Regions from separate parts of the Homo sapiens genome. Here region 2 is linked to region 1. The links come from fine-mapping of genetic effects on gene expression. Tissue or cell type: whole blood. Region 1 holds a variant in brackets; the other region holds the start of a gene. All regions are shown on one strand. Distances are between the middles of the regions.

Region 1 (8,182 bases):
GAAATTGTTGCATCCTTGTTGCCCATTATTAAGGGACACGAGTAACCACCCATGTCCCATAATGGCCTTTCTGCTGCCTGAGGTAACCAGGCTTGTTGGAATGGCATCCACAGTGAAAATCGGCTGGCTCTGGTTCAGGTCCCAGCAGCTCCACTTGGAGCCTGGTGCGCAGGCTTTACGACATCTACTACAGCTTGCAGAGATCTTCTTGGTTCCTTTAAGGTTCTGAACAAAGACAAATGTTTACTAAACACACACGTGGTACGCCAGGGCCTGGGTAAGGACCCAGTCTCCTAAAACTAATATGACTCCACACTGCTCTCAGTAAGCTCATGGACATGCAGACACAGCACATCGCCACAGTGTGTTAAGTGCAGTGGAGAGGTACAGAAGGTGTTATGGGGACACCGAGCAGGGCATCTGAGCAGCCTGGAGGTGGAGGTGGAATTTGGCAGGTGGGGTTTGGGGGGAAGCTTCTGAGAGGAGTCAATTCCCCAGCCTAGAAGGATGAGGGTATGCAAGTCAGGCTGGAGTGGGGACTGAGGTGGGAGGTGTCAGGAAGACTGTGCAGTTGAAGTGTAAGATGTCAGGCAGACGGGAGGGACTGCGAAGGCAGGCAGGTTGTCAAGCGCTGGAGTGGGTGAGTGTGAGGCTTCGCTGTAACTGTACTGCTGTTTTCAAAATGAAATGCAGAAAAAGCAAAAAGCTACTTAGGGGTGCTTTCACAGGTCACCCACAAATGAGAAGTGCAGGGTCTCTGCTGCCATTAATAAACATGATCACTCACTACCAGTCTCTACTAGAATTATAAGCCCAGTGCCTGGGGTAAAACAGGTGCAGCTATGGTGCTTGGCTTGAAAAAGACTCCAGTAATGTTGGAACTTGCCACATAGAATAAAACAACATCAGCTACAAAAGCAAATCACTCCAGCAAAATTAATTCCAAAGGAGTAAAACTTCTCATATTTAGTGAATGCCCTTTACAAAGCAAAGACCTGTATTTGAAGCTCTAAAAGGAGGCAAAAGATAACCTCTCACCTACAGCTCTACTCTCAGTCTGTGCTATTTAAGAATTAGTATCACTGATGACTCAACAAACACCAAATCATGCTTCACAAATTCAATTGTGAAGCAACTAGGTGAAGCATTTTTTGGAAATCCTGCATTTAGGGAAGTACTGGAAGATGGATTATGGTTGTAGTGAGTCACTCCTATGGCAGAGAGGGGTTTCCCAAATCCCACTCTAGACAGAGATGGCAAAGATGACTGTTTCTGTATTTAAACCTGTGCATAGAACCATTTTGGTTTTTCTAAAGTCCATTTTCCTAGAAACTGAGCCTGCACATCTGTACAGCTTTACCTGAGGCTTTTGGCTTCTGTCAGGTGAAGTCTGCCCTGACCTGTGTGGTAGGAAATCTCAAGGCCAGGAGACCGGTTTAACATCACTTCTAAAGCCAAGTGGCTAAGCCCTTTGTCCCTGCTCCTCTCTTTTGTCCCTGATTCAGCCAACCACAAGTACAAGTCATTAACATGGGGTGATGAACACCGGTGGGAGTGAAAGCAACTCAGAAATCCCTTTGTCCCACACCTGGTGTGAGTTACAGGTGTGGGAGGCAGAGGAGCTGCTGCCTGGTGATAATAGAATTCCTGTCGTCACTTGCTCTGATGCCACTGACCTGCTGCAGTCTGGGTCCACTCTCTGCCCTGGCTATCAGTTCAGAACTATTCCTTCCCCAGGCCCAAGGGGCTAAAAATATCCCCCGAATAATGGCTGTCAGTATAAGTAAGGTGCATTCCCTAAGGCCCCCTCATTAAGGGCTGTTCGATAGGAGTTAAAGCTGATGGGCAATTTGTATGAACAAGAGACATAACATCCGGGTGGATGAAAGTGCTATGCCAGGATGGTACCAGTGACAAGATGATACTAACTAAGGAAAGTGACTGGAGAGCGAGCATGGACCAGGCAGGGCAAGATCCTGTAAGGTCACTGGGGCAAACATCTTTGGAGGCATCTGCTCAGCTCATGGTGATCCCTTCCTCAGCATTTACCCATGCTCCAGCCTGGCCGCATGGGTAAACGCTCAGCATCTGTGCACAGCCAGTTAGATCAAGCTGCACCTGCTCAGAGTCTCTTTTCCAGAAAACTGAAACTGAGGTAAAAAGCTTTTAATTTAGTCTAGGCTGTGTGCAGGAACTGAGGAAACATGAGTTAGGAAACGGAAACTGCTTTTGCAGTGTAAACGTGGGAAATGCCTGGGTATAAGAGAGTGGAGAAAGACTGGGTGGGTGGATGGACAGGTGGGTGGGTGAAGGAGAAGAATGAAGCAGAAACATAGAGTGAGGCAGAGACAAGAGATCAGGGAGGGTGAGTGAGCCAAGAGCAAAACTGCCAGGGTTCCTCATGTCTTTCTGGTTTCAGATCAGCCGAGAGAGCTGGCCAACTCCTGCCCTTGGGTTGCATGAGACATCCGTTGTACCTCTGAATCTTTATTTTTAGTTCTTTTTTTTGCATAGCCTTAAGAAAGTTTTCTTACTACCTGAAGTAAATTTTCTGCTACCAGGAGAATTTCAGCTAAAATACACACAATTTTTGTTTTTCTTTTTGAGACAGGGTCTTGCTCTGTCACCCAGGCTGGAGGGCAGTGGCAGGATCATGGCTCACTGCAGCGCTGAACTTCTGGGCTTAAGTGATCCTTCCAACCTCAGCCTCCTGTGCGGCTGGGACCACAGGTTTGTGCCACCACATCTGGCTAATTTTTTGTATAGACTGGGTATCTTTGTGTTGCACAGGCTGGTCTTGAACTCCTAGGCTCAAGCAATCCTACCTCGGCCTCCCAAAGTGCTGGGATTACAGGCGTGAGCAACCATGCATGGCACACACACCCATTTTTAAGGGGTAAGAAGTTTCCTTATTTATTTATAAATCTGGGATAATAACATCTATAACTACAGTGATCATGTAAAGATTAAACCAGAAGCCAAGTGCCTCATACAGTGCCAAGCCCAGAAAAGAATCTCAATCAATAGAAGCTATTGGTACCACTACATTATATAAAGAGGAGATTTTGTGCCCAGTGCCCAAGTCCCTGGTATGACTAAGAGGAAGCCCAGGGCAGTGGCGACACCTGGGCTCTGGGCCAGGATGCTTGAGGTCCAAGAGCAACTCCTGCTGTGCTGTATTTAGCTTCTCTCTCACAAAACTCACTTCTGCAAAATGGGGATAATAAGACAACCCAACTCACAGGTTTGTGAGGATTAAATGATTTAAGCTAAGGGCTTTGAATAGTGTCTGGCATACCATAAGTGAAATGCTCAAGAAATGTTAGCAACTATTATTATCCTCATCATCATGAGTGCATCCACTGCAGCTTCAGCCGCCATGGCCGTCTGCTCCCAGGGCTCCAAAGGGCCTGATGCATGAGGCATAGGAAGGCCCCTTGGCTGTGGCTGTGGCACACGTGGCAGTGAGCTGCATGCACTGGGTCTCGAGGCCTCCTTCACAGACCTCCAAGACTGGCGGAGGTACACACACACTCACAAGTGGACAGGAATGAAACAGCAGCCGAAACAGCAACTGCAGCAGCTCCCCCAACCCTCAGTGTGGGACAAGGGTATAGAGGGTCGAAGGAGGTGGAAGGAGTCCTAGCCCAGCTGTTGGGACACAGGGATGTTTCCCGATGCTATATGGTAATGGCCTTGACCGGGTAAGGACTTTTCTTTCTGGGAAATGCTTGCTAAGCAAGGGGTTACAAAACTAGATTTGATAACCAAAACATACTAACAAAGGTTTCAGTTCTGATAAGTTTTCTAACACTGACTGGTAATTCATATTTTCTATTTTAGGGGCTTTATAATAATTATTATTGCAAAACAAATGCCCTCCTTATGTACTAAAAACATATTACTGTAAGCGAGACTTTTTATAGCAGTTATTCTTCCTTTCTATAAAGTTGATTCAATCTCAGAACCAGATTGCAAAGATTTGTCTCCATTTAAAGAAAAAATCTGTTGTCTCTATGATTTAAAGACTGCATTTGAAGATGTATCATTCCAGAAACCAAGGCAGTAGGAAATAGCCACCATACTCAGAATTATAGTGAGGATGCAGATTACCTTTTGGAAATAATTCAAAGATAGACATAACACGTAAAAGTTATGAAAAATGTAGCTATTGCTTTAAGGCAATGTTAAGCTGGGAGCCACATCTATTCTTACTTACCCAAGTTCTAAGAACTGCCTTGGAGTATTTCTACATGAATAACAAGCTCATGCTGTATGAAAAGCTGCAGAGTGCTATTGACGGCTGGGGGAAAGGAGAAGGAAATCTCCGTAACAGATAGCAGTGTTGAACTTCTCCTAAGTACCGTTGCTTTATTATTTTTCTCAGACAAAGTCATCTACAGGGTGAGCAGGGAGTTCAAAT[A/C]AACAGGAAACAGTTACTGACGTCAAAGAGGTCACAGTGGAAAAGCACCCGCATGAGGAAATCTGATTGCACCATGTCTGAACTGGAAATAACTTGAATTTAACCACATTAAGAAAGATTACAAAGGCTTCAAGGAAGAAACAATGAGAAGGAGTCTAATGGCTGCATTTTTTTTTTGAACTTATCATTTTGCACAGCCCAGAAGATGTCAGAGGTTAATTCAATCACCCAGCAACCCCTGTGTCAAGCCCACAGGCAAGATACATCCTGTCTGAGCTGAGACTAGTCTTTGGGAAGGTGAAATATGTCCTGAATATAACAAAGCCTTAGGACTTTGCATTTCAAACCTAGAGGGACACACAGCTCTTTTCAAAGACCAAGTGTTTTCCTAGTAATCTGGATGCATTATAGCCATCTCTCATAATGAAACCTGACAAGGCTTACTGGCATATATACAGTAGACCAGGGAAACAAAGAGGAAATCTACCTTGCAGTTTAACACACTGTGAAACATCCAGGCCAGGATGTTCTTTAAAGCATAAATAAGTGGTAACATATGATCAGGGGTACAGCAGAGTCAGAGCACAAGTCCCCTCTTCCTGATGGAACCTCCTTTGGCATTTCTGGTCCACATACAGCTTTCCAGTATCATTGTGTAGGGCTGGGATGGATCTGTGCACTTGGTCTTCTTTTCCATGGGGGACCGGAAACCCTTGAAGGCAGAGCCCAGATACTAAGTGAGATATCTTTAATAGCACCAAGCACAGTGCCTGGCCAATTGTGAGGGTTAATAAATGCTTCAAGAGTGAACATAATAGGAACCATTTTTGTCTCCTGGTAAAATTTAAAATGGAACTTTAGAAGAGCTGGAACAAACTGCCAAGATTCGTTTCACCCAACCATTTTACAGAAGCAAAGGGCAAAGAAGTGAAGTACCTTGCCCATAGTTAAAACAGTTTGTGGAAGAGTTAAGTAGGACAATCAGGTCTGCTGATGCTATATTTTCCTTTATAAAGCTTTGATTTTTCTATTTATAAAACTAATTACATATCCATAGTTCAAATGTAATTACAAAGTAAATAGATAGAAAATTGAGAAGAAAATAAAGAAAATTCAAATAAAATCACCCTAATCCTGACAACCAGATATAGAAGTCTCAAGCTTTTAGCTTCCAAAGAACTGGAGATTTCAGGGCAAATAAGAAGTTTTCAAGGTAATGTTAACTAGATTTAATTTTTCCTTTGTGTCCTAATTATACTTAACATTTTATAGCATGTTTTAAAAACAGAAAGGAAAAAGTAAAAAACATACACTTCTCTTTTCATTTATATTGCATATTATTTCCTGATATAATTAGTCATCAAGACCATGATTTTTTTAACAGTTGCATGCTATTCCCGATGCCAGTTCTATGAAGTCCTACAATTAGCTTGACTTCTAATTAGGTTAATGAAAATAAAAGGACACAGCTTTTATAGTCTCTATGCCATGATAAAGATCATTTTTTTAGCCTGGTAAAGCAGGCATCTCTCAGTGGAGATGATTGCTAACTGGGCACGGTGTTTTAATTGATTGGTCAATCATTTAGACATCACTAACCTTTAGAGCACCCCCTAGTGGTCGAGAAGAACGTTTGAACAAACCTCCTAGTCAAAAACTATCCACATTTGAAATACACTAAAACTTAAGAGTCACAAAGAAGATATCTTGGATGATTATCTACTTTTTAAAAAAGGTTTAGCAACTTAACAAAAGCATCCACAATAGGATTTCTTCAAGTCATTATTTCACATAGTGAAATTCTCTTTATAAAGCTTTTGGTTTAAGCATCAAATAGGATATTTATGGACTTAGTTTGTATAGGGCTTGTAGGATAAAGAGTAAAAATACCATTTCATTTATTTAGATCATTTTTCATGATGGAGATCCCTAAACTGTGTAAACTTTTAAGACAACCACAATTTCATTTCTCCCTCTGATCTATGTATGAATTCGACACTTATGCCATGTGGGAAGATATTTTGGGTTATAGTTGATTAGACACTTTGCCCAGTTAGAGAAGTAGAGACTATGGCCAAGAATATGCCATATCTGCCTCAAGGTGATGCCTGGGAATCTACTGGCTGAGAATTCATTTCCTCTCCCCCTGTCTGCAGTGCTGATGCACGGGCCGAAGTTTCTGTGTGGAATGTGCCTTTCACATGCTATTCTGAGTTTGATTCCTCCACTGTAGCCATGACAAACTCTTCTCTGGTCCTCTGGCTGGGGAACAAAATCTGTTCAAGCAAATGACATGCCCACAATTTCTTCCCAAACTATTAAAAAATTTTTTTAAAATTATACTTTAAGTTCTAGGGTACATGTGCACAACGTGCAGGTTTGTTACATAGGTATATATGTGCCATGTTGGTTTGCTGTACCCATCAACTCGTCATTTACATTAGGTATTTCTCCTAATGCTATCCCTCCCCCAGCCCCCCATCCCCTGCCAGGCCCCAGTGTGTGATGTTTCCCACCCTGTGTCCATGTGTTCAACTCCCACCTATGAGTGAGAACATGCAGTGTTCCCAAACCATTTTTGCAATCTGGGTTACATATTGATCTCCACTGTCAATTAAGGAAGAAAGTTGCAGACCTTACTCTAAAGGTATGGAGGCTAAATTAAAAGAGGTGGAGCTCTAACAGGAAGGGGAACAGTCATCAGAAACAGCTTAAAAGGTTTATATGGGAGAAAGCACATTGTGTTAACTTTGAAGGCAAGCTTCAGTTGGCTAAGTGGAGTTCAGACAGGTTCTTAAAACCCCAAAAATGAGCAGATCCTAAGATGGTGACACCAAGAACCTCATGCCGTATCCAATAGAACTCTGAGTCTGTTAGTGAACTGACTTCATCTCAGCACTTGATTTATCCTACTATGAAACCACTTCCTTCTGATTCTTCTTCTTTTTTCCACTCAACCTTAACCCTTACTTAGAATTCCTTCTTCAAGTCTCCTCTCTTCTCTCTCTATAAACATCTACTAAAAGATTTTTGATTTTTTTTTTTTTTAAGACAGAGTCTCGCTCTGTTGCCCAGGCTGGAGTGCAATGGCGTGATCTTGGTTCACTGCAACCTTTGCCTCCCGGGTGCAAGCGATTCTCCCTGCCTCAACCTCCTGAGTAGCTGGGATTACAGGTGCGTGCCACCATGCCCGGCTAATTTTTGTATTTTTAGTAGAGACAGGGTTTTGCCATGTTGGCCAGGCTGGTCTCGAACTCCTGACCTCAGGTGATCCACTCACCTTGGCCTCCCAAAGTGCTGGGATTACAGGTGTGAGCCACTGCACCTGGCCTGAAAGATTTTATATTATAGTTTCCACTTACCAAGAGGACATGGATGACACCAAACTGATCTCCCATCTCAAGTGTGTTTCTGACAAACAAGCATCTTACCACTGAATTTCCCCCAAACCGAACTCATGCTATTCCATTCTCTTTAGGCTTCCAAATGGCCAGAGCCCTGGCCATTCCCACTTAAAAAGTCCTATCATGTCTACTTCTTTAGTGTTTCCTTGACTCCACTCCCATGATTGCTGCCTTGGGGCAGGCAAGTTCCCAGATCACGGGCCCAGCATCCTCACCAGATCTGCTGCCATTAGCCTCCCTCTGTACATAGCAGCCAGAGAGAGCCTTCTAACATGCAAATCTTATGTTACTCCCTCACTTAAAGATTTTGCTGGCTCCTTTTACCTAAACAGTTTAGTCTAAGCTCCTCAGCAAA
Region 2 (8,182 bases), 220 kb before region 1:
GACAATGGAAGTTAACAGGTAGAAAAGTTGACATTCTCCAAACTGCACAAGGTGCTCTGCAGTGGACCGTAGGAATGAACTCCAATACTTTCTCAGTCTAAAATAACTCGATAGTTCAGTAAATACACACGTGTGGAAGAGTGCATAGACTTCATACAAATTGAGCCACAAAACAGACCAGTAAGACAAGCTTGAAGTCTTGCCTTCAGATGGAACCCAATGGTCTTAACTCTGGAGAAACTCATAAGCAAAGGACAGTTTTTCTACCACGTAGCTGCTTTACTGAGAATATTTTATCAACTCATTATCTTTTACAAAGGTTAATTTTTATAAAATTGTCTAAACTTTGGCATCAAGACGAAAAATGTTTTAACTTACTGCCAGTACTAAGAATGCAGTGTCTTGCACATATCTTGCTTAAATGAACAGTAAGACTAGAATACTGTGTATGTTTGACTCTAGAGTCCAGAGTAAACTCAGTATTCTATTTGGGGAGAAAACACAGGGGTGAGCAATTGTGAAGCAGGAGGCCTCCACTAGAGTAGAGAGCAGATCAGATGCTCAAGAAAAATAACTGATACTAGGTGCCAATATAACCCAAGGATGTACTCTTTTGCCCATTGTAACAGGAAAAAAACGCTTTTCAAGCTCTGGATCCAATGTTAGTCTTTTCACTTTCAGGAGATAGAAAAGATGCATGAAGACACAGAAAAGAAACTAAAGGAAACAGCTGGAAGGACTAGCAAAAAAGAGTTTTAAGAGTTGTGGAAGTTTAAACAAGAATTTTAACAGGTAACATCTATTTTCAAGTACACAGTGTCATCAAGACTCCTGCAATGGGCTAAGTGCTTCACAAGCATTATCTCATTTAACCTTTACAATAACTGCTCAGATGGCTGCTATTCTTATCATCATTTCAAAAGGAGGAAAGAGGCTCAGAGGCATTCAGTAACTTGCTCAAGCTCACAAGTGAAGGGCTGGGACCCTTAACTCAGAGGTATCTGCCTCTAGATCCTATGCTCTTAACCACCATATGCTGCTTCCTCAAACAAAAGGACAATCAAAATAGAATCATAAGGAGAAAAGTTTGCTAATAAATGAGAGAGCTTCTTGACTTTTAATGGCCAAAGTTAATGAAGGAAATTAAGGAATATCTATTCTCAGAAATTTTACTTTAATGATTCAGTAATTATTTGTTTTGGAAAACTCTGAAGGAGTCTGGCCTGAAGCCTGAAACAGAATCATTACTCTCTTGACATTCCCTTAAAAATCTAAAAATCAAAATGCACGTGCTATTAAATAAGTTCAGCCCCTATAACTAGGAACAACATGAAATGTCCTGCGTTAAATCTACAGTATCATAACCATACCCATTTTCTATTCTGATTTCTTCCAATTCTTCAGGTTTTGAGTTTCCTAGACCTTCTTTTAAAAAGACAAATTTGTTTTCCAAACTCCGACATTGGGAGCTCATTTAAAATGAAAAAAAAAATTGCTTGAAGAAAATCTCCGTCCCTCAACCTCTCAGTTATCTTTCAAAAAACTGTAAATTAGTTAGAAAAGGTCATCTATTATAAACAGCATCTAAAAGTGCTGAGTAACCACCACTTATTAAGTGTTTAACTTAATTTTTCAGTTATATCAAGAACTTCTATACTAAGAAATATGAATCCATCCAATCCAAGGTTGCCAAGTTTTCAAATGAGAAAATTTTGAAAGTAACAGATGGGCTGAGGAAAATCTAAGAGCTTATTTAGAATTGGGGCTGATGAACAGTAGCTAATTTATTAATTCGTTTCAAAACTGCTTCTGATATTCTGAACGGATGAATGGCAAAACAATGAGTTCGATACTGTATATAAAAAAAGTGGTACATAATTTAATGCATTGTATTAAGTATGATTCAATATATAATAAGGATAGAAAACTGGCACTACACAGAGGTAATCTGCCTTAGGTTTACAATATAGCAGCTTTATCATTTCATCAAAAGCACTGTAATCACCTCCGCAAAATAAACTGCAATTAATTCCTGGTAACTCTTGGAATTAATCTAGACCTGTTTGCTCACTTTTTGAATTTTATAAGTGACCTTCTCTGCTGTATACAAACTAAGAATTTAATATTCTATTGAAGAAGGACCAGGAGAAGGGATCTACAAAACAGCAGGAATATAAACAAGTTTATCTTCTGCTGATACTGATTAGGGAAATTAATCTCTCTGCCAGAAGAGTGGAAGGATTTAACAGCAAAGCCAGTCTACTAACCAAAACTCTTACTCTAAATCTTCAATTCCTTAAGTGATTTCCTTAAAAGTTAAAATGCCAAAGTGGGCAAAATTGTGTGTGTGTTGGGGGATGGGGGAGTCCGCTCTTAACACCACTGGTCCAACTCACAATTCTTAATCTCTAATGTACCCCTTAGACTCAAACTTCAAGGTGATTTATAAAACTTGCATTAAGTTCTAACCGAGTGATTACTTACTTTAGATATATGTTGACGGTTTTCCTTTAATATACTTCAATTTCAGGAAAATGAGACAGAGTTCGAAAATTTTTGCAACATTTTAGTGCCGCATTTCATTCACTCATCATATACTTTTTTCAGTATCATTAAAACTGCCTAAATTTAACCAGCCCCTACATTTTCATTATTTGAAGAATGAATGAGGCATATATTCATTTATAATATCTGCGTTCTCGTGACAGGTGATATGAACTCAAGTATCCAATTCTGAAGTTCTCTTTAAAATGTTGCCATTTCCCTAAATTCCCATTACTCTGACTCTCAGTCTAGGCAAGTTTTTCAAGGCGATTAAAACGAAACAAAACCTGCACGTGCAAACTAAAAAGTTCGCATCTTAAGGCCATCGCGGCAAATCCCTAATGCACAAAGGCAAAGACACCCGCGACGGCTGGACAACTACAGGACAAGATCGCATCCGACCACGCGAGTCCCTCAGTCGGGAACTCAAGGCCCCAAGTCCACTGGAAAGCCAGGACCAGCGTGCAGGGTCCGCCCCAGGGCCGAGTTTTCAATGGAACTGGAGAGGATGGGGGCGGGAAGGAGCGGAAGCTCCGGGTGCAAACCGCGGCTACCGAGCTGCAGCTCATTTCTCTTCCCGGGGTTTTCAGGCTGGGTAAAGTCCCCTCCGGATGGGGCCACAGAGCAGGCTGGGTTTTTGAGGCGGGTAGGTGGGCGGCGCGAGGCCCCCACGGCCGGCGGGGAGGGCAAGCAGGGCTCAGACCCCGGCCCCTGAAAGCACTTTCGAGGCGTCTCCCACCCCCCACGACAAGATGGCGACGTGGACAGCGGGGGAGCCCGGCCGGCGAGGTTGGGGGAAGAGAGGGGAGGGGAGCAGCAGCAGAAACAAAAAGGCTGCCCCCCCCAATCCCATTAACGCCGAGGCCGGCCCAGGAGCCCAGGGCGGGCAGGCGGGCGGGGTCGCCGGGGGAGAAGGCGGCGGGCCGAGGGAATGGGCTTACTTTTTCTTGTCGTTCGCGCCGCCGGCGCCCTCCATGGTGAATCGGTCCCCGCGATGTCTTCACGGCGGGCGGCCCCCAGGCTCGCTCCGGCCTAAGCGCTGGCTCCCTCCACACGCGGAGAAGAGAAGGAAAGGCAAGTCCAGAGGTGGGGGTGCGAGGCGGGAAACCCCTCGTGAGACTAGAGAGAAGCGGGCGGCAATCGCCGGGGTCCGGGCCCGGCTCCGAGCCTCTCCTCAGGTGGCTTGTCAGGGCCCAGCCCGACACACTGGCCGAAGCGACGAAGAGGGTGATCCTCCTGTCCCCTCAGACGAGGCAGCACTGTGCACTGAGGAGCTGAGGCAGCGTCAGGGGGCGGGCAAGGGCGGAGGCGCGCTCGGGCGCGCGGGGAGGGGAGAGGGGGCGGGAGCGCGCCCGCTCGCCTGCCCAGGCCGGCGCGCGCTCCCGCAAGCCCGCCTCACCTGAGGTGGAGGCGGGTTCCTCGAGATCCAATGGCGAGCGACGCAGGCGGCAAGTCCCCACCCCAGCCCACGCCGCTCTCAGCCAATCAGGAGGCGGTCAGCTGAGGCACAGCTGGGACGGGCTGCGACGCTCACGTGCTCGTCTGTGTTTAGCGGCGGAGGAAAGAGAAAGGAGATGGGGGTGCGGCTCAGCCCGAGTCTGGGGACTCTGCGCCTTCTCCGAAGGAAGGCGGTGCCCGGCTTTGGGAGGCGCTGCTGAGAAGGGATTTCGGTTGCCTGGTCCCAAACATGCATCATATTTTCCTACTCTTGGTGCAGTAATGTAATGCTCCTGCTCTCTTTCTCCTCGGCCTCAGTGCTGGGCACGATTGCCGCCCAACTCTGCTGGGCTCTCTGTTCAAAAAAGCAGACTTCGCCTCGTGGCAGCAAGCCCTTCCTTTGGTCTCGTTGCTCAGATGTGTTACAACGGGGTCTTTCCTTACCAGATTACCTAACCATGGGTCAATGTCACCCACCGCACTCTTTGCCACGGAGCACAGGGGAACTCACCTTGTCTACTAAGTTTTTCTGTGGCGGAGTTTACTTACTGAATAAATGCAATTAAAAATAAAAATGAACTCCTGTTGCTGTAAACTTCAAGGGAAATAAAGTTGCAGGGAAATCTTAAAATCTGAAACTATGTTAAGCATTTGCAAATAGGTATAAATGACTTTAATAAGCATATAAACCAATTTCAGGGAAAGAGTAGAAAAAATGGCCTTTGGCAACTTTGCAAGCTACTAAACAAAACATAATCACTTTTGTCTTTGGAGGCATAAACTTCAAGCCTGTCAGTCTTCTAAAAGAAAAATATGTTTTGAGCCCAACAAAGTAGCATTGCACATATATCTCCACTTGGCGCTAAATTATTTTACTTCTCACCTTTGCCTTATGAGTTTCTTGTTAAAACCTAGCTTTGGGTTGTAAATATAAATATCTGTAGTGGCTTTCAATTGTATTAGCATGTAAAAACAATGGTCTATATAGAAGCATCAAACTCTGACAAGACAACAACCAATGTATACAGCACCTCTTTTTAACTGGTCAGTAGACCTACAAAGATACGATTAAACATTGACCTTAGCGGACAGGGTGGTTCCAGCTACTCAGAGGTGTGAGGCTGGAGAAGCCTGGGTGTTCCAGCCTAGGGAACGTAGCGAGACTCCGTCTCTTTAGAAAATTTTTGATCTTCACGCTACTTTTGTTTTTTCAGATCTACAACACTAAATGATATGTATTATGTCTTGAAAAGAACCATGGGAAATGCCTGAAGAGAAGAAAGAACTAAAAATAATTACTCATAATTTCTTTTTTAATTGTGGAAAGAATACTGTAAATTAAAAACTTTTTAGTTTAACATTCTCAAGATACTGTGTTAAGAACACTGGCTCCAGAATCAAGCGTGAGCTTGTACACAGGCTTTGAATCTTACTGGCAAGTCGTTTAATCTCTCCATAACTCAGTTTACTTATTTATAAAATGGATATAAAAGTGTCTATACCACAGTATTATGGATGGTTAAATGAGATAATAAATGTATACTTAGAACAATATCTGGTGCATAGTAAGCACTCAGTAAATGTTAGCTCTTAGTATTGTTGGTGGCGTTATTATTATTATCATTATTATTATTCTGAGGCGGAGTCTCGCTCTGGCCCACAGGCTGGAGCGCAGTGGCGCGATTTCGGCTCACTGCAACTCCGCCTCCCAGGTACAAGTGATTCTCCTGCCTCAGCCTCCCAAGTAGCTGGGATTACAGGCACGCACCACCACACTCGGATAATTTTTCTATTTTTAGTAGAGACGAGGTTTCACCATGTTGGCCAGGCTGCTCTCGAACTCCTGACCTCAGGTGGTCCGCTCGCCTCGGGTTCCCAAAGTGCTGGGATTACAGGCATGAGCCACAGTGCCTGGCCTATCATCATTATTATTGCCCTCAAATTTATTCCTCTGTTAACAGTAATTACTCGGGCTTCTCCTACAGTTTAGCCATTTTTAACTATCCAAGAATACCAATTATGTTAATATAAATCCACATATATTCTCTATTTTCAACTTTGGAACTGCCCATCGTGTTCCCACCCTCATTTATGAGGATAGCTGCAGAGATCTTCCATCATTTCCCTTTTCATTATACTTATAGCAATTATCTCTGGCCAGTGATTATAGTATATAATGTTTGTGACATCAAAAGACAAGCATTTTGTAACAGTAAATCTAAGTCATTTAAAATTTTTTTGGATCATTTCAAAAGTTTAAAGCAGAATGATAATTTGATCAGCAAAAAAATTTTTGAATATTCATTAAATATGCCCTTAAGTTAATTTTCCTTTTCAAAAATGTATAAAATATATGTTTATGTATATGTGTATACACAAATATAAATATGAAAATGGAAAGGAAAGTAGTATATGTGTATATATATATATGTCTATACAAATATAAATATGAACATGGAAAGCAGTAATATTCAACCAACTAATTTTCATATAGTTACAAAGGCACCAAATAGTATCCCCTAATTCAAACAATCCTATTAAATAACAGACACCAAAAAGGAAAATTTCATATAGGATAAAATTTTAAATCCCTCTCTCTACAACCACTTAACAAATGCATTTAGGTTATTACTATGTAAGTATATCTTAACAAACAGTCATTTAATCACTTTCTAACTTTGCAGAACTTTCTGAGTAGACTACAAGATTACTTGCAAATGACCCCATTGACCCTTAGCCCGTATTTATTAGGAAATTGGGCAGTGAATCAGGAGGTTAAGTAAAACTTGAAATTTTGATTACTACTAAATAATACAGAGCATTGAGCCTTTTGAAGGTGAAATGCATCAGATGCACACAATTTATAGGGTATCAAACTATACAAGAAGACCTAGTATTCAGTAAGTGATTCCTGGCCTATTACTACCCTTAGTTGTTTCTTTTTCTTTAAGCTATTCATAACGAGAACAATGGCAGCAAAAGGGTATTGTTTGGAAGGAAAGTGCGTACAAGATAAGAGGCATTAAAAATCTTTGTTTTTTCCTTTCAAGAATCAAGACACAAAGTATCTGTGATTCCAACATTTTGGGAGGCTGAGGCAGGAGGATCACTTGAGGCCAAGAGTTTGAGACCAGCCTGGGCAACAAAGTGAAACTCCCATCTCTACAAAAAATTTTAAAAATTAGCTGGGCTTGGTGGTTAGTGCCTGTAGTCGTAGCTACTCTGAAGGCTAAAGCGGGAGGATCACTTTCTCCCAGGAGTTCGAGGCTGCAGAGATGTACGATTGTGCCACTGCACTCCAGCCTTGACAGAGCAAGACCCTATATCTTAAAAAAAAACACAAAAAACAAACAACAACAAAACCCACACACACAGACACACAAAATAAAATGTATATTTATCTGAGTTTAGGGGGAATATAAACAGACTGAAAATTTGATATTAGCACTTTTCAATTATGATAAATATTTTTAAGATGAATTTACAAAGGAACACCAAGGGGCTTTCAGTTTCCTGTTCAACATGTAAAGAGCTTGGAAGTTGTCACTCCCATCCTCACAACAAGAAAAAAAAAAGCTAAGCAAACTGAAATCAGTAACTCTTCTTAGATCCACCAGAGAATTGAGGTCACAGGAAAAACCACTGCCCTAAAAACTAGAGAGACAGACAGATAGATACAGAGAATCACAGCTTTTCAGAGAATCACAGTTTACCAGGAGCAGAGCCCAGGCACAGAAGCCAGAAGCTGAAGCTAGTTTCACAGCTGGAGCCAACATCAGTAGGAACACTAAACTGTAATTGGGGAATTGCTGGAGGCTCAGTGCAGACTAGCTTGAGAGTTAAAAAACTCCAAGGAGGCTCAGTCTGAGAGGGGCCTCAATACTTACCTCAGTTTTACCTCTGTGAATCCTGTCAGATTCTCACTGTAAAGATCTGAGAAAAATCTGCTTTGCTTTTGCCAGGGAGAAGGGGTAAGTAACCATCGTGAAATACTCTCAGGGCTCTCTGTTCTTCTTAACAAGACCTGGCCTCAAGGGAAACTCTCTATCAGAGCCTAACCAGATGAATCTACCAAAGGCTAACCAATCTGGAGGAAGGGAAATTACCAACTCTGGTCAGCTCTAGCCTTCCACAGGGGAGAAGGGAAATACTCAACTCAAGCTCACTAAAAGACTTGAGCCCTAATCATAGGACTGCAGAA

What was found. PIP is the estimated chance that this variant, and not a neighbour inherited with it, causes the effect.
Region 2: HIF1A starts here. The variant in region 1 is fine-mapped to the expression of HIF1A in whole blood (TOPMed, PIP above 0.99).

What each region holds. Positions count from the first base shown.
Region 1 is chr14:61,473,283-61,481,464 of GRCh38, reverse strand. The region is part of intron 9 of PRKCH (protein kinase C eta); the gene reads right to left. Among named protein-coding and RNA genes, the nearest start is that of PRKCH-AS2, 68 kb to the left of the region's middle. RefSeq lists enhancers at 1,741-1,910, 2,508-2,677, 3,755-3,814, 4,448-4,527, 4,638-4,737 and a cis regulatory region at 2,592. The variant A/C (reference allele first, on the strand shown) is at 4,424.
Region 2 is chr14:61,691,143-61,699,324 of GRCh38, reverse strand. It overlaps HIF1A (hypoxia inducible factor 1 subunit alpha), which reads right to left and starts at 3,812. Exons shown (of 15, transcript NM_001530.4): 1 at 3,486-3,812. The coding sequence starts at 3,520. It overlaps HIF1A-AS1 (HIF1A antisense RNA 1), which reads left to right and starts at 3,502. Exons shown (of 2, transcript NR_047116.1): 1 at 3,502-3,618. RefSeq lists silencers at 3,354-3,453, 3,754-4,053, 7,980-8,182 and an enhancer at 4,124-4,493.